3 separate regions of the Homo sapiens genome follow, and regions 1 and 3 are each linked to region 2. The links come from fine-mapping of genetic effects on gene expression. A gene starts in region 2. Each other region holds a variant in brackets. All regions are shown on one strand. Distances are from middle to middle.

The links.
Region 1: its variant is fine-mapped to the expression of SLC12A8 in testis (GTEx, PIP above 0.99). The same link has a PIP of 0.9 or more in thyroid.
Region 3: its variant is fine-mapped to the expression of SLC12A8 in whole blood (TOPMed, PIP above 0.99).

The regions. Positions count from the first base shown.
Region 1 is chr3:125,117,220-125,123,257 of GRCh38, forward strand. It overlaps SLC12A8 (solute carrier family 12 member 8), which reads right to left. Exons shown (of 14, transcript NM_024628.6): 7 at 3,380-3,467; 8 at 1,550-1,637. It also overlaps the pseudogene RNU6-230P. Among named protein-coding and RNA genes, the nearest start is that of MIR5092, 31 kb to the right of the region's middle. RefSeq lists enhancers at 3,232-3,281, 3,284-3,790, 3,791-4,296, 4,502-4,721. The variant G/C (reference allele first, on the strand shown) is at 2,864.
Region 2 is chr3:125,209,895-125,215,932 of GRCh38, forward strand. It overlaps SLC12A8 (solute carrier family 12 member 8), which reads right to left and starts at 2,854. Exons shown (of 14, transcript NM_024628.6): 1 at 2,806-2,854; 2 at 1,405-1,500. The coding sequence starts at 1,455. RefSeq lists an enhancer at 1,975-2,574 and silencers at 2,466-2,515, 2,526-2,745, 2,786-2,935.
Region 3 is chr3:125,152,534-125,158,571 of GRCh38, forward strand. All of the region lies in intron 5 of SLC12A8 (solute carrier family 12 member 8), which reads right to left. Among named protein-coding and RNA genes, the nearest start is that of MIR5092, 4.0 kb to the left of the region's middle. RefSeq lists an enhancer at 1,610-2,111 and a silencer at 2,347-2,396. The variant G/A (reference allele first, on the strand shown) is at 2,551.

The DNA of each region.
Region 1 (6,038 bases), 93 kb before region 2:
CCAGGTTGCCCCAGGCACTGGCCCTCCATTAAGACCAGCAGGGCTGCTTTGCAAAGCCTCACACCAAGAGAAAATGGTAGTCTATCCTAAAATATAGGGGCTCATGCCTGTAATCCCAGCACTTTGGAAGGCTGAGGTGGGAGGATCACTCAAAGCCAGGAGTTTGAGACCAGCCTGAGCAACATGGCGAAACCCCGTCTCTACAAAAAATTGAAAAAAAAAAAAAAATAGCTGGGTGTGGTGGTGCATGTCTGTAGTCCTGGCTACTTGGGAGGCTGAGGTGGGAGAATCACCTGAGCCCTGGAAGTTGAGGCTGTAATGAGCCATGTTCACGTCACTGTACTCTAGCCTGGGTGACAGAGTGAGACCCTGTCTTTAAAAAGTTAAAATTAAAATATTAAAATTTAAAATACATAAAATATAAGCAGTGATACTCAGGAGTTCACAGAAAAACTCCCTAACCAACTACATTTCTCTGAAAAATGATGGGAATCTCAGGGTCTACTTTTTCTCCAAGAACTTAAAGGAGGGTGGGAGTTTTTGGGGATTTCCAGAAAAATATCTGGAAATCTTATTCATGTGGCTTCTAGGATGCCAAATAAATGTCCTTGATGTCAGATGACCTCCAGCCAATGCCAGGAATTCATTAATCTTCTCCTGGCAGGGTGCAGACTCTAGAAACAAAGATGTTGCAGCCAAATCAACCCAGAATGTCTGAGACTCTCAGGAAAGCCAAAGGGGTCAAGGACCTGAGGGACAAGGAGGGCCTCGGCCCTCACCCTGGCACTGGGCTTCCGCCCGCTCCCTCCACGTCTGCCTGTCCAGCCTCCTTCTCCACTTGCCACTTCTGAGCAGCACATTTGATTCATTGTGGAAGGTGAAGCTATTAGCAAAAGTGAGGCACTTGCTTAACTGGGAATTTGGGGTGAGCAGATTCTTCTGTTTCTGTCCTGATTTTTGACAGGAAGAGATGTCCCCATTATCTAGCCCCTCATATTTGTGAATCCCTCTGGGCATCATTATCTGTTTCTAGAAATCCCTAAGCAGGGCCTGTACCTTTTCCATCATGTCTCTTCCCCACCACAACCCAACACTTCAGTCCTGGGCTAGAGACTATATGAAGGCTGGGCGTGGTGGCTCACGCCTGTAATCTCAGCACTTTGGGAGGTCAAGGTGGGAGGATCACTTGAGGCCAGGAGTTTAAGACCAGCCTGGGCAACATGGTGAGACCTCATCTCTACCAAAAAATTAAAAAAAAAATTAGCCCAGCATGAGGGCATGCCCCTGTAGTCCCAGCTACCTGGCGGTCTGAGACAGGAGAATTGCTTGAGCCTGGAAGGTTGAGGCTACAGTGGGCTGAGATTGCAACACTGCACTCCAGCCTAGGCAACAGAGTGAGACCCTGTCTCAAAAAATAAATTAATTAAATTTTAAAAAGACTATATGGATTCCCAGACAGTACTGCAAGGGGAAGGTGGCCATTTGTTGGTGAGAACAAATAAATGACTCCGGCAGACTGAGCCCTTGGAGTAGCGCAGGCCTCACTCACCTTTTCCGCTATCAGGAAGTCATAGCGAAGGGCCTCTCGAGTGCAGATGGCGCCCAGGAGGAAGACGAAGATGATGTACAGAAACCACCTGCAAAACCCAAGAGCAGAACAGAGCTGCCCCCGACTCACCTCACCCAGCCCCATCCAATTCCCTCACTCAACCTTCTGTTTCCAAAGGGAACTTGTATCAGAATGAGAGAAAGGCCAGTCATGAAGCTTCCCCAGCTGGCTTGGGAGGACACTTTTTGTACTATTTCTCTTCTGGCATATTTCTTACCAAAAAAGGGGTACCATTGTTTTGTTTCTTTTTTTACTTTTAAATATATATAAAAATATGGAACACTTCACGAATTTGCATGTCATCCTTGCACATGGGCCATGCTAATCTCTGTATTGTTTTAATTTTAGTGTATGTACTGCTGAAGTGAGCAGTTTTTTTTCTCTTTCTTATATTAAAAAAGAAAAACATACAAAGGGCATTCCGAGTAGGGAAGTGGGAGGCCCAGTTGCCTCTAGGTTGCCAGGATTCAGGCCAGGGTTGCCCCGCAGCCTCACACCCCAGCCTCCTCCAGCAAAAGAACAAGCTGATGATCCTTCGGGCCTCTAAGTCCTGCTGGTCTGTTATCTTTGGATCAGATAATAAAGAGGGAAACTAAAGTCAAAAGGCAGAGAGCAGAGGCCTGGCTCTGTCCCCAAGATGCCCTGTAACCTTGAACAAGACCCAGGTTCCTGTGGTCTCCTCATTCCCATCTGGGTAATCAGAGGATGGGCCAAGGGTTCCTCCTGGAACCTCCCAGCTGGGGCCAGAAACAAGACAGGGTCCTCATTCAGAAGCCTCTTTCTTTTATTTCCTTCCCAACACTCAACTCTATCTCTGTTGTCTTCATTTTCTTCCCAATGTTATTGCACAAAATACCCTGATGCTGTACGCCAGGCTGATAGCAATGGTTTCACTGCAGTAAGCTAAGAACAAATTCAGTGTTTGTGAAACAGATACATTAATATTTTCTAAATACTGTGGTTAGAATAACACAGGCCCTTTTAACTTCTCAAGTCATTGTTTCTGGTCTCTGATCTCTTTGCCTCTTCACACCTACCCAATGAAGGGCAGAGAAGCTTCTTCCTGTGGTACAGAGAGAAACAATATTCTAAAAGGTCAGAAATAGACCCAAGGTTACCCAGCCTGCTTGTGTGGGTGGCACAGTGTGAACTAAAACCCCAGAGGCCTGACGGCCTGGGGGAGCTGGAGGGGAGGCTCACTGGGGGAAGAAGAAGAGCTGGGTGCTGAGCTTCCACTGTGTGCCTTCTCTCCCC[G/C]CCGCAATCTAGGAAGCACATACAGTGTCATTATCCCCATTTCACAAGAAAGGAAATGGAGGCTCAGAGAACTCAGTAAATTGTCCAGAGTCATGCAGCCAATCAGCGGCAGAGCTGAGATGCAGCCCCAATTCGTCTGATTGCAAAACTCTTCATCTTTATGCTCCCTCCAGTGATCCTGGAAACTCGGTGGTTAAAAAAATCCCCAAGTTCAAAATGGGGGTGGGGGAGGGACGGGGGCGGGAGGCCGAGGAAAGGAAAGAAAGGATTCGATCTGTGATCTGGGTCCCGACACTCCTCCTCGGCAGCATTCCCAGGCAGGGCGCATGAAAGGGCAGTGTCTGAACCCACCAGACGTGAATTTTCCAGCCCACCGAGTGTTAAAAGAAGGATCGGAATATGAAATAGATTGGTCACAGTCGGGGCACTCTCAGAACAAAAGGGGCAATCCCTCTTCTGCCTGGGGTTTTCTCTCCCACTCTCTAGCTCAGACTGATTGCCATGAGGGGAACTTACGAGATGCCAACAGCTGCCAGGGAGCCCAGGGGAATGCTGGCGGCAGGCTCCCTGAGGTCGCCCCCCATGTTGAAGCCGGCCATGACTCCTGAAAGACACCCAGATGGGGAATGGGGTGAGCAGCCTCCTCCACGCATCGCCTTCCCCAGGGCTGCCCCTTCCTCTCCTGCGGGACCCTCTCCTGGAAGCTGTCCCACCGCAAGCCCTCCAGCTGCAGCTCTGCGCATAGGCTGCTTTTCAATCTCCCCTGGCAACTAGGGAGGCATCCCTGTGGCGTGAAAGGCACCTTTGTGGGTTGGAGGAGGCTCAGGAGGAAAGCCCTCCCAGCTCCAAAAGCATCCTACCGCTCAGCGCAAAGCAACCAGGGGGGAGGAAAGCGGCTTGCAAGGCACACAGAGGTCCTGCGCTGCCTGCTGAGCTGGGACAATGCCCTGGAGAGGCTCAGCATTACAAAGGTCTGGCAGCCTCCTGCTCAGCAGCTTTCCCTGCCTCTGCTGCCTGCTGATTCCATGGGAGCTTCCTGTGTCCTCGGGGTCAGGTACCATCCTCCAAGCCCCTGAGCTACCAAAGGGCTTGAAATAAACTCCAAAAAAACCAATCCTGATGCCACTGACATGGAGTCACAAGCTCCTTTTCATCATCACCTCTCTTCTGCAAGAACACTAATGAAAATGAATTAATCCATGAGGGACCCACAGCACAGTGCTGCATGGTGAAGTGGGGATGTTGCCTCTTCCCATACAAACAAATATATGAAAGCAACAAGACAGGGTGTTCTGAACATCGGATGAGGATCCAGCCCACAAGTGCCATAACAACTCAGTGTGATGGGCTGCCCTGGTCAGGAAAGACCCGTGGAGGGGGTTGTATCTTGAATGTGGCCTTGAAAGAGGGATTTGAATGGGCTTAGGGATGGGAATGAATCTAACTCCATGATTTGTGAACACTTTCAAACTGCCTGGGCCTGTGTCAAGTGCTTTACATGCATTTTTTTATCCTGTTTAATTCTCATAACAACCTCATCAGAAAGGTAGAATTATTTCCTCATCTTATGGAAAAGTGTTCAAAGAGGTTAATTAAAACAGCCTAAGGTCACACATTTAATAAGCAGCAAAGCTAAGATTCAACCCTGGTCTGTCTGACTCTGAAAATTATGCTCTTAATGCCTCTGCTACAATGCTTCACAGAATCCAAGCGAAGTGCAGTGAAGTGACAGTTTGGAACCAGAAAGTGAAAGTAGGGGGGTGTATTTCAGAGAGAACCCTGAATGCTGGCCCGCGGATGGGGTGCATATACTGTCACCCAGCAACTCCACTATGAGGACTTTACCCATCGTAGGTAGTCAAGGCTATGAGGGAAGATTTAGCCCAGCGTGTTTATAAACGCTTGTTTAGAATAGTGGAAATTAGAAACAACCTAATGTCTAAAAATAGAGGGTTGGTTAAATAAGTGATGATATAGCTTTCAATAAATACTAGGTCTCAGAATATTGTAAGGGATATGTTGTGACATGGAAAGATGTTTAGAAGCTTTTGCTTAGTTTTAAGACGCATATTAGAAAACAGAACACATGGTATGATCCCATTATTATAAAAATATATAGAAAAAGGAACTGGAACATGTTTTAAAACATTAACAATGTTATTTCTGGGTGATAAAAGAACAGGTCATTTTTATTTGACTGTTTATATTTTCTCAATTTTCTACAATGATCATTTTGAAACGTGAAAACTTTTAAGGTTTTGTTGTTGTTGTTTTTGTTTTTGTTTTTAACGGCCTGTTAGGCACATTTTCTTTCCTCTCATTCCCTCCTCTCCAAGATCCTATTAAGAGCATAGTAAAGGGGAAAAGTAGATAAATTCCCATAAGCAAAGAGAAGTTGGGAGGAGGACCCTAAGTAGATGAAAGGTTCCCATGAATGTCTGGAACATAGAACATAGAAAATGGAGAATATAATACCGAGGAAAAGAGAAGGAAAGAAAGCCTCGGAATGCTTCTCTACAAGATCTCAATACACTGAGGAAAACCAGGGCTGGACGTTTGCACCCCAAATAAAGCCCTGCTCAAGAATCAACAGCACTCACAAACTTCTCATCAAGGTAGGGCCCCAGCAGGGAGACAGACCTAACCATGCGACAGCTGGGGAAATCCATGCCCACAACCAAGATCACCCAATGTGTGATGAAAACCAGCAACAAATAAACAAATACACGCATAAATAGAAACAGAACAACCCAGGCTGGAAGAAACATAAATCAGGATACAGAGAGAATTTGGAAGAAAACACTAATTAGTAGCTCCAGGTACATCCAAGAAGAATATTCTATCTATAAAACAAGGTGCTATGAAAAAAAATCCAAGAACAACAAAGAACTTTTGGAAATTAAAAATATGATCATTAAAATTAAAAATGCAACAGATTTAAGGGCCAGGTGTGGTGGTTCATGCCTGTAATCCCAGCGCTTTGGGAGGCCAAGGCAGAAGGATCACTTGAGGCTGGGTGTAATGGCTCACACCTTTAATCCCAGCATTTTGGGAGGCCGAGGCAGGCAGATCATCTGAGGTCAGGAGTTCGAGACCAGCCTGACTAACATGGTGAAACTCCATCTCTACTAAAAATGCAAAAAGTAGCCAGGTGTGGTGGTGCACACCTATAATC
Region 2 (6,038 bases):
AAGAACTTAGGAGAGTATGAATCATCCAATCAAGAAATGGTACCTTAACAAGACAGTGCAGGGGAGGGAGAGAGAAAGAAAGGATGGATTTCTAAATCATGAACACCAAAGGCCTTAAAATTGGGCATTGGGCCATGTCCAATCCTTCGATGTTTAGCTATTAAGGGAGAAGGAGGCAACACAGAGGTCATTGTATCCATCACATTTTAGAAATCAACTCTCTCTTAGGGCACTTATGACAATTTAACTTGCATTGTGGTTTTCTGTTGTTTGTTCATGTGATCAATCAACTAAAATTTACTGTCCACTTAAATACCAATTTAAATACTTAAATACCACTTAAATACTTGGGTGAAGGTTTCAGTGACAAATTGTTGATAAGAAGCATCAGCAAAGATCAAGGGAAAGATATAAGCTCTGGGGAATGGTGTGGTTCAGCTGGAAGGTGTGGCAGGAAGAAGAAGATGTGGGGAACTCGACTTGAGACTCAGGTGGGGTCAGACTGTATAGGGCTGAGGCTGAAGAGTTTGAGCCCTGAGTGGTGCACATGAGGAGACACTGAAGGTTTTAAACAGGGGAGAGAGGAACAGATGCCATCACAGGGGAGATCTCAGAATGTCTTATTTGTCTCTCCTTTGGGAATTCCTGGGCCTCACATTTTCTGTCTGGGTTTCTTGTTCATTGTTGATTCTCTCCCCTCTGATGGGGCTTGTCCCCCTGTTACAAGGCTGGGAAACCCTCCTGCCACTCTCTAGAAGCAGGAAAGAAACCCAAGGGATGGTGAAAACTTCATGTTGAGTGATCATGGATGGCAAAGACCCTGGGTGCACATAGTTTCTGGATAAACACTTTAGTATGGTTTATTATTATTATTATTTCTTAAGGGATCAGCTCTCCATTTCTGGGTAGAGCCACTTCAATTCCATATCTACAGAATGCATGTAACTAATGATCAGCAGGGAGAAGATAAAGAAAAAAGAAGAAAAAAAAATAGCAAACACCAGGGCATTCAGAAATCCTTTTGGCTTCAGAACATAAGAGTTTTTTCAGAAATAAATTTACCTTCTTACATTGGTTTGATTCAGAATTAAAATGAGTTCATATTATCTGAGTCCTCACTGTGACTGTCTGTGGAAGACCTCTCAGGATGGAGTTTGGAGTTGTGGGGGATCCCAGGATTCAAAATCCACCACAAATAATGCCAAAGGTTTTCTGTATATGAACAGTTAATAATGGCTATAATATTTTGGCTATAATATTTTCTCATTGAACTGGATGACCAAAATAGACTTTGGAGTTAATTACATCTAAAGGGTGCGCTGTAATGTTTGCATCCAGCCCACTGTCTGGGGATCCCCGTGCTCACAGGCCTCCATCACAGACCCTGGCACATCCTGAGCCTACCTGCTGGGCTGCCTCATGGAAGAGCTCCTGCACCTGGGACATCTGGGTCATTCTCCAGCAAGCAGGGATCCTGGTGATCTGGACAGGGAGACTGCTCTGGAAGGTAACAGCATCCTTGGTCAGGCTGGCTTCTCCTCTCCTCTCCCCTTGTTGTCCATCCTTTCTCTCTACTAGAATTGTTCAAACTACCAGGCGAGGCCCTGGCTGAGGAAGAAACCTTGTCTACCTCATCTGGAAACTTGGCCGGGTTACCTTTTTGGTACCCAGGTAGATCCCGCTGGTCCTTCAGTGCCCACCTGTGCTCAAACCTTGCTGCCCTAGAACCTCAGGCACTCCCAGCTCTCTCCTTCCCTGAGCTCCTTAAATACGTGAGGGTCAGAGCCAGCTGCCCTGCTGCCCAGCCCTTGAGGACACAGAGTCACACTCCTCTCCCACCCTCAAGTGCCTCGTGAACCCCTCTCTCCAGGAGGAGGGCATCATGACGCACTAGACCTGGCTGCAGGTGGTGAGTGAATGTAGCTGCGCCCTGAGCAGAGGGGAGAGGGGCCATGAGGAGGCTGTTTTGGGGCCCTTCTGGAGCAGGGCCGGAGAAGGGTAGGAGATTGAAGAGGGTGAGTGAGAAAAGGCTGGACAGGACTAGGGCAGCTCCTCAACCCACCCCCAGGCACCCTCCCCTTCGCGCTGGACCTGGCTTTCCTTGAGGGGAGGAGGGAGTTTGTCCCCTTGATCTGTGTGGCGCCTCTCCCCAGCACAGTGCTGCAAGGTAGACGGGGCTCAGGACCCTTTGGTAGAAGGAGGAAGGGGGAGGAAGAGAGCGAGGGGGAGGGTTAGAGCTGATCTTCCTGGGAAGAAGGCGACTAAGGACAGCAGCCAGCGCTGGCGAGGAGGGAAGGCGCCCGGAGCACTGAGTGGGGGGTTGGGAGAGGAGGGTTAGCCCAGTGGGAAGCTGGGAAGGCTGGGGGACTTGGTGGGCTGCAGTCCTGCCAAAAGCCGGGTGACAGGTAGGGAGCCAGAGCACCCGGGTGTCCCCGGCTGCCCGCGCCGCACAGAGCAAGGGACCCCAGGCCTCCGCTCGCCCTTCCCGCCGCCCCGCGGCCTCCGCAGGCCGCCCCGCAGGCCTCCGCCCACATTCACCTGGCTCCTCCGCGGAGCCCCTACCCTCACGTTTGGGCCACGCTGGGACCCGGGCCCCTTGGCACCCCACGCAGACGCGGACCCGCACCCCAAGTACTGGGGCCAGGCCCGTGTGCCGGCGCGCGGGTGACCGGCGGTAGGAGAGGATCCACCTGGGCGGGGAGGTGGGGGCAAAGGTGACCCCAGGCCTGGCTCCTAACTGCGGGCCGGGGAGAGGAACTGTCCCGAGACCACCCTCTCCACCCCCCACAGCCCTTCCGCCCTCACCTGCTCCTGGGACAGCCAGCTCCCAGCGCCCGGCCCGCCCGGTCCCCGCCCCGCCGCCACGTGGCTGCCCCGGCTCGGCTGCGCGGGTCCCAGCTGTCCCGTCCCGGCGGGGGCACCCCTGCCACGCCAGCACCGGGAGTCTCGGGCCCAGGTGGCGAGGAGGCGCTGCAGAGGCTTTCCCTCCGCAAGGGTCGGGCCTTCGCGCCTACCTGGACAAGAACATTCACCTGGGTAGGGGCAGGGCTGGGGGAAAACAGGGAGTAGGGGCCGCAAGCCCACAGGCTCGAAGTGACCAGCCACTGCCTCTCCCCCCTCGACAGTGCAACCAGCGGAAATGCCCAGCCCCGGGACCAGGGGACTAGGGACAGGAGCCTACCCTGTGCGGCTCTGAGGAGTGGCTGTGAGCACTGCACGCAGGACTGAGAAAGCCCGGGATAAGCCCGGAGTGCAGGGAAACCCGCAGCCCCCTGGGCAGATGTGGAGAAGAATCTGGACAAGCTGACCGAGACCCCGGTACCGGGGGTCTCCGTGTGTGCCTGGCTGCGTGATCAGGTGACCCCAGACTCTGAGGGCGTGGAACTGCTTTTGCCAGGAAAGCGCTCTGGGCATGCTGTGTAGGGGTGAATTACCCTTACCCCCTTCACCAAGACCCAGAACTGCCTTTCCTAGGGGTGAAGTAAGGTTTCCAGGGCCTCATGTTGCAGAAAAAAAGAACCCTAAATTAACATACAGAGAGATTAAATTATCTCCATTCCCAATCTGGCATATTTCCTAAACCTTAAATAATTTGAGAGGCTTCCATGTGGGCTTCTGAGAAACAGGAGGGCAGCTGGGAGAACTTCCCACGCCCACAAGCCTTTGTGTGAAAATCCCTAAAAATAGAGGTTGTTCTTCTAAAAACAAAAGGGAAGGCTAAGCCATGGGAACACTGACAGAACCTAACCTCTCGCTTCTGCTCCAGCAAAGACGCGTGTGAAGATATAGAACATCATATTTGCCATTTTTACCATTTTAACTGTACAGTTCAGTGGTATTAATCACACACAATATTGTCCAACCATCATCGCTATTTCCAAAACTTTCATCGTCCCCAATAGACACTCTGTACCCACTAAGTACTAACTCCCCGTTTCGTCTACCCTCAGAGGTAACTCCCCTCATCTACTTCCCGTCTCTATGGATTTACCTATTTTGTGTATTTCATGTAAGTAGAATCATACAATACTTGTCCTTTTGTGTCTGGCTTACTTCACTCAGCATAATGTCCTCAAGGTTCATCCATGTTGTAGCATGTGTCAGAATTTCATTCCCAGCAAAGAAATTTTTAATAACCCATCTCTGCCAGAAAAAAAGACCCCCCAAAAGTTACAGATTAACCATCTGTGAACAAAGGATGAATGGGCGGACAGGCTGACACAGTCACGTTACTGGAATCCATTATGCAGTCACCGCTTGGCATCTGCAGGAAATTAGTTCCAGGCCCCCTGACCAATACCAAAATGCGTAGATGCTTAAGTCCCTGATATAAAGTGATGTAGTATTTGCATTTAACCTACACACATCCTCCCACATACTTTAAGTCATCTCCAGATTACGTATAATACCTAATTCAAGGCCAGGCACAGTAGCTCACACCTGTAATTCCAGCACTTTGGAATTACAAAAATTCCAAATCTCCAGGCCAAGGTGAGAGGATCACGTGAGCCCAGGAATTCAAGACCAGCTTGGGCAACACGGTGAGAGCCTATTCTTTTCCCCACAAAAGAAATTTTAAAAATTAGCTGGGCATGGTGGTGCATGCCTGTAGTCCCACCTACTTGGGAGGCTGAGGTGGGAGGATTGCCTGAGCCCAGGAGGTTGAGGCTCTAGTGAGCCATGATCATACCACTACATTAAAGCCTGAGTGACAGAGTGAGATCCTGTCTTAAAAAAAAAACAAACAAACAATCAAACAAAAAAAAAAAACTATGTAAATTGTTGTTATACTGTATTGTTTAGGGAATAATGACAAGAAGAAAACTTTGTACATGCTCAGTACAGCTGCAACCATGCTTTTTTTTTTAACCAAATATTTTTGACCTGCCTTGGTCAAATCCACAGATATGAAGGGCTGACTGTATTTCCACAGATTCATCAGAATGATCAGCAGAGTCATTTTTCTTATTCACTTTTGGTGGGTCATACATGACACTGCTCTTTTTTTTTTTTTTTTGCCTCAAGCTGGTTTCCTGTTTGCTGTCACCTTCCGATGAGTCTCCCTCTAAGTGTCAACATGAATTTTGAAGAATCTGCATTCAATTCCATATCAGCCTGAGTTAAAAACTTTAGAATGGGGAATCCACCTCTCGCTTTATAACCACCTACTTCCTGTCACTCGTCATTTTCTAAATAAATGAGAAGTTCCCTTCAAAGCTTATAAGCATCTTCTAAACCCAGAAACAAATATAGTTGTTTATTTTCTTCATGTTAAGGCTACAGAAACCTGCCCTTTGCAAAGAAAAATATATATATATCCTGCTTAATGTAGATTTTTCTTATAACAATAACACTAACCTTAAAAAAACAAAAAAACAAAAACAAAAACAAAAAACCTCATGTTGAAAAATAGTATCCTGGCTGGGCGAGGTGGCTTGCACCTGTAATCCCAGAGTTTTGGGAGGCTGAGGCAGGTGGATCATCTGAGGTCAGGAGTTCGAGACCAGCCTGGCCAACATGGTGAAAAACTGTCTCTACTAAAAATACCAAATTTAGCCAGGTGTGATGGTAGGCACCTGTGATTCGGGAGGCTGAAACAGGAGAATTGCTTGAACCTGGGAGGTAGAGGTTGCAGTGAGCTGAGATCATGCCACTGCACTCCAGCCTGGGCGACAGAGTAAGACTCTGTCAAAAAAAAAAAAAAAAAAGAGAGAGAGAGAGATAGTATCCTGCATATCCTTTAAACATTGCCATTTTGAAGATACTGCCCTACATGAACTAGGAAAAGCATGTTTGTTGCATCATTACTTTGTAATACTTTAAACAATGAGAACAACCTAAATGTCCATCAACAGAAGACTGCTTAGATAAACGGTACAGCCATACTATGACAGCTGGCATTAGAAATAATTAGGTGTTTCTGGGCTGGGTGCAGTGGCTCACGCCTATAATCCTAGCACTTTGAGAGGCTGAGGCCGGCGGATCACCTGAGGTCAGGAGTTTGAGACCAGCCTGGCTAACATTTGTTTTTTTTTTTT
Region 3 (6,038 bases), 57 kb before region 2:
ACCGTCTTCAAAATAATAAAACCCCAAAATTATTCTCTACAATATCCAGTAAGTGCTGATTTTCTAGAAAACAGTTGGCAGGGGGAGAGAGAGAAGGAACCACCCCTCCCCCCAAACTCAAAGAAAAAATAACTACTTTGGACATATTATTTCTAATCCTTTAAAAAACACTCTTCCAGGAGGGTATTTCTTTCCATTAGACAGATGGACAAACTCAAAGGGTTTCGGTGACTTGCCCACAGCCACACGGCTAACAAGAAGCATGTGTTCTGATAGCATTAATCAGAAAAGCATATATTGCTGACATGGATTCCCTGTTTCATGAGGGCAGGGACCATCGCTATCCTATTCTCCGCTGTATCCCAAAGCCTACCTCCTGGCACCCCGTAGGCTTTGATGACTACCTATAGGGTGGGAGGATGGGAGGAAGAAAGAAAGGGAGGCGGAACAGGTGTGTGTGCAGCCAGGCGCTCCGTCCACCCTGCCACTCCTCTTCTTTGGAGACAGTGCTCTGACAATCTGTTCCATCAACTCCATTCTCCTGCAACTCTCATCACACTTTCACAAGCTGCGCAGATTACGTTTCCTAGGACTGTGTCCATCCATCTGCCTCACTGGATGCTGATCCACTCTGGTGTGTTTCCCAGTCAGTCACTCAGCAAAGTGCAACCGAGAGCCAACCATGTGCCCGGTACTTTCCAAGATGCCAGGATAAAACGGCAATAATATGGGATTCCTGTGCTTGAGGTTTTTACAGCCTGAAAAACAATGACCTCTGCATTTCCTACTCAGCACCGCGTGCCATCAACATCCAAGGTATGGGGATTTTCTGTAGCTGCCTATCAAACTCTCTCAGCTACCACCAGTGCTTCTTTCTGCTATATCTGATGCCTTGTTTTGTTACTTTCAGAAACACCAAAGGATGGCCGCAATTGAGGGACTCTTCTCAATAGCATGTTCTTGTGCTTCTTCATTTAGGACACATCTCCCATGCTGGGAAGTACAAGACAAATACGAGGAGTTGGGCAAGTGTCGCACTAAGTTCTGCCCCTGGCTGGGCAGCCCACTGACTTCTAAGAGATAATGAAATTTATGTATTTATTTATTTATTTATATATTTTTTGAGATGGAGTCTCACTGTCTCATCCAGGCTGGAGTGCAGTGGTGTGACCTTGGCTCACTGCAACCTCCACCTCCCAGGTTCAAGCGATTCTCCTGCCTCACCAGGAGAATCTTGTGATGCTGTAAGATGATAAAATGCCTATGTGACGAGACAATGTGGGGCGGATGACGCAGGCATCGTGACATAGCACTTGGCTATTATTGGCCTTGAGCTCTGGACTAGCTGGGGTTACAGGCGCGTGACACCACACCCAGCTAATTTTTGTATTTTTAGTAGAGACAGGGTTTTACCATGTTGGCCAGGCTGGTCTCGAACTCCTGACCTCAGGTGACCCACCCACCTTGGCCTCCCAAAGTGCTGGGACTGCAGGCATGAGTCACCATGCCCGGCCAGATGATGAATTTTAAAATCAAGTTTTATTATGGGGAAACTGAAGACCCACAGATATTGGGGTGCTGGCCTAGGGTCCCACAGACAGTGGTAGAGAGAATGCTGGCTTCAAGTCTCCCAGTGCAAAATACTTTAACTACCGTCCCCTTTCACTTCACTAGTCAGCAGCTTCGCAAACTGCATTTTCAATGCCATGCCCTACATGGGACTTATGTGTCCTGCTTGTTTTCTAATTCAGTCAGTGAAGAGCAGGCGGCCCCAGCAGCTGGAAACAATGTGAGCTTGATGGTTAAGGACATGGACCCTGAGGTCAGAAGCCAGGGCTCAAATTCTGGCTCCATTGCTTACCAGCTGGATAACTGCTGGGCAATCTAACCTCTCTGAACATCAGTTATCTCATCTTTATCATGGGGACAATAACACACAGGGACTCCATAGATAGGATATAGTGAGATGTATAATGCTTAGTATAGCACCTGGCACAAACAGAATGCTCAATAAACATTAGCTATTACAGTATCCCCCCTCCCTTATCCATTAGGGGTACATCCCATGACCCCCAGGGGATGCCTGAAACCAAGGATAGTACCTAACCCTATATACACCACGTTTTTTCCTATATATGCATACCTATGGTAAAGTTTAATTTATAAATTAGGCACAAGAAGATATCAACCACAATAATTAATAATAAAATAGAACAACTCTAACAATATACTATAATAAAAGTTATGTGAACGTCTCTCTCTCAAAATAGCTTACCATGCTGTATGCACCCTTCTTCTTGTGATGATGTAAGATGATAAAACGCCTACGTGACGAGAAGTGAGGCGGATGATGCAGGCATCGTGACATAGCACTTGGCTATTATTGGCCTCGAGCTCAAGCCCTCTGCTACTTGACAGTTGACCTGATAACCAAGCCAGGTACTAAGTGACTGATGGCAGGCGGTGTGTACGGTGTGGCCACACTGGACAAAGCAGGGTTCATGTCCCGGGTGAGACGGTGCAAGATTTCATCATGCTACTCAGAATGGC[G/A]GGCAATTTAAAACGTATGAACTGTTTGTTTCTGGTATTTTCCATTTAGTATTTTCGGACTGTGGTTGACTACGGGAAATGGAAACCATGGAAAGTGAAACCGTGGGTGGCGGGGTGGAAGCTACTGTGTTACTTCCCTTGCTCACCGCACCACCTTCAAATCTTAAATTCAAGAAATGTACAGCAATGTGAATTGACCCAGGACTTTTTTCTCATCTTAATAAATTATTCCACCTTACTTTCTTCTCTGCTTACAAGCAGAAATATACTCAGTGTTTCAAAAAGTATTAATTTCGGCGAGGCTGTTTGGTAAAGAATGTCTGATAAGGACACTGTGAGATTCTGATGCAGGAATTGATGTAGACATCTGACATAATTTTCTGATGGCTTATTAGAAATAAGTTTGAGCCGGGCGCGGTGGCTCACGCCTGTAATCCCAGCACTTTGGAAGGCTGAGGCGGGTGGATCACAAGGTCAGGAGATCGAGACCATCCTGGCTAACACGGTGAAACCCTGTCTCTACTAAAAATACAAAAAAGTAGCTGTAGTCCCAGCTACTCGGGAGGCTGAGACAGGAGGATGGCATGAACCTGGGAGGCGGAGCTTGCAGTGAGCCAAGATCACGCCACTGCACTCCAGCCTGGGTGACACAGCGAGACTCTGTCTCAAAAAAAAAAAAAAAAAAAGAAGGAAGTTTGAAAGGACTAAGAGCAGGGTAACAGTTGATGAACCACTTTTCTTAATCATTATTGCTTACTCTTGCCAAAAAAAAAAAAAAAACCCAACTTCGTAACTCCAATTATTTTTAATTTTTCAGAAAAGTGGCACATATTCTCAGAGAAGCAAGGGAAATTTCCCTTCACATCCCTAGACCGTATGCTCAGGGTGAAAGAGACTATTGTTTGGGTCACAGACTTGTGAGCCAGACGTGATTTTCACATGCAAATGGTGGCCACATACAGAGATAATCCAGGCCCCGGGCCAGGCAGAGACCCCAGCCGGCTGCCTCATCATGCTCTCACGGGGCATGTGGCTGAGCTGTAGTGCTGTGATGAGGGAGTGTGCCATCCAATGGGAGAGGCCATGTGTGGAAAAGGACTAAAAATACAAAGCACGCTAGAAACCGTGCAAATGAATTTAGTTCAGAGTGAGAAGGCATTTCGTCACTGAATCATGGATGGGGCTGGCCAAGGTTCACCAGAGGAAGTGAAGTGTTTGAGTTCATGTGCCAGACATGGTGCCGGCTGCTTCGTCTCCAGTATCTCAGGGCCAGGCCATCAGTGTGTGTGATCATGCATGGGTCTATGTGTGCACCCACTCATGTAGCCAGTGGCGCGAGAAAAGTAAATACTTATGGCAGGATCTTGGACCCTTTTAAATGTTTTCATCATTGTTTTGGATTATAAACTAACGAGACAAAAAATCAATCAAAGTTCTCATTGGTTAAAATAATTTTGTTTGTGTTTAACAAGTATGTGGATGTTCCCGATGGCGGTGGTGGACCAAAGATGGGATGAGAGGTGGGATGAGAAGGGCGGGAATGGAAACAATTAAGAGGCATGTACAAACAAATCAAGAAAATGAGATCACGAAACTGTCTCCCAAACTGCATCTGGTCTTCATCTCTACCCCACCTCGACTGCATCAGTCCAGGCTGTGTCTTCTCTAGACTGGACAATTGCAACCACGTTTGAAGGGCCCCAGCCTCAGTCCCTCCCCATTTGTGCCTACCCTAACTCCAGGCAGGGCTCCAAAGAGCAAATCTGATTCAACCCCTTCCCTGCTTCAAAGAAAAGCCTATTGACCTTTTGCTCAGCTTTTATGATTTCCGTATCTTTAAAACGCATGTTGAATTTTAAACTTATTTCTGGTTATTTTGTTTGTTTGTTTGCTTGCTTTTCTAACTAGAGAGACTAAGAAAATTCTCAAGATATGTCATCAAGCCTCTGTTTATAGTACATTCCATCTGGGACTTCTGAATGTTGCTACATTAGTTTTAACTTCAAAAATATTATATACTATGTGAGCTCAATTATGCTTTAAAACGAAAAAGGATGAAAAAAAGGCTATAAGGAAATAGCTTTTAGATATATTTTTAAATTAAATATGTATAGTTCTTAATAAAAATAAGTTAAAATTATAATTTAGTAGGTACTATCTACTCACATATATGAATACAAATATGCAAGGCAAGAATACTGGAAGGAAATACACTAATTATAAATACAGATGCTCCTTGACTTTCAGTGGGGCCATGTTCCGATAAACCTGTCATAAGTGAAAAATAACGGCTGTGATCTGAACAGAGACAAGCTACTGTTCTGCTTTTCACCAAGACCTGTGATACAAGCCAATCCTGGAAGCCCTAGAAGCTGAAAGTTCCCTGAGCTTCCCTCTGCCTCCTCGCTTTGAAGCACCATCACCTCAGGGAACTGGGAAGAACTCTCTCTTGAACCTGAAAAGGCTCTGTACCCTTCTGGCCCTCTGTCCCCAAACCCTGTCCCAGCACACTCAGCTCCAGCACACCTACCTTCCTGCACTTTCTGAACTCTTCCATGCGCGCTGAGTCTTCACATATGCTGTTCCTGTTCCTTGGGATCACCATCCCCAGTTTACTACCAGGTGAACACTTGTGTGACCTCTGGGGTACACTCGCATCACCCTCTCCTTGAAGACATCTCAGAAACCCCAAGGTCAAGGTTCTTCCACTCTCCTCCACCTGCAACTTGCATATTTTCCTTTAAAATACTGACCCAGGAAATGGTGATTGTTTGGTTAGGGGAGAGCCTGTGCCTTATTCTTGTGTGTATCCTCAATTTCTAGCTTTGGTTCTGCACATAGTGGGACTCAGGAAAAGTTTTTCAGTGAACTGATTAGAGTGGAGGAGAGAGGGAGATCTAGGTGGGGAGGAGACAAAGAAATACAGAGATGAAGAGGCACATGAGCCAAGGAAGGATGGCGGAAATGAAGGAATCAGGGACCGAATGTTAGCAAGACACAACTTGACAACTCACTGTGGAAAATCTTTTCAGGAATAAATACATTTTCTTGTTTCAATCTAAGGTTTCATTTCTAAGTAGGCCATTTCTCTGCTTATATTTGTTCCTAGTAAGCCCCAATGTCAAATTAGCTTTTCCTTTTTTTTTTTCTTTTTTGAGACAGAGTCTCGCTCTGTCACCCAGGCTGCAGTGCAGTGGCGCGATCTTGGCTCATTACAGCTCCTGCCTCCCAGGTTCAAGCAATTCTCCTGCCTCAGCCTCCCGAGTAGCTGGAATTACAGGCATGTGCCACCACGCCCAGCTAATTTTTGTATTTTTAGTAGAGACGGGGTTTCACCATGTTGCCCAGGATGGTCTCCAACTCCTGACCTCAAGTGATCTGCCCACCTCGGCCTCCCAAAGTGCTGGGATTATAGGTGTGAGCCACAGTGCCTGGGCCCCCAGTGGGCTTTTCTAATTATAAGTGTATCCAACTATTATAAGATCCTC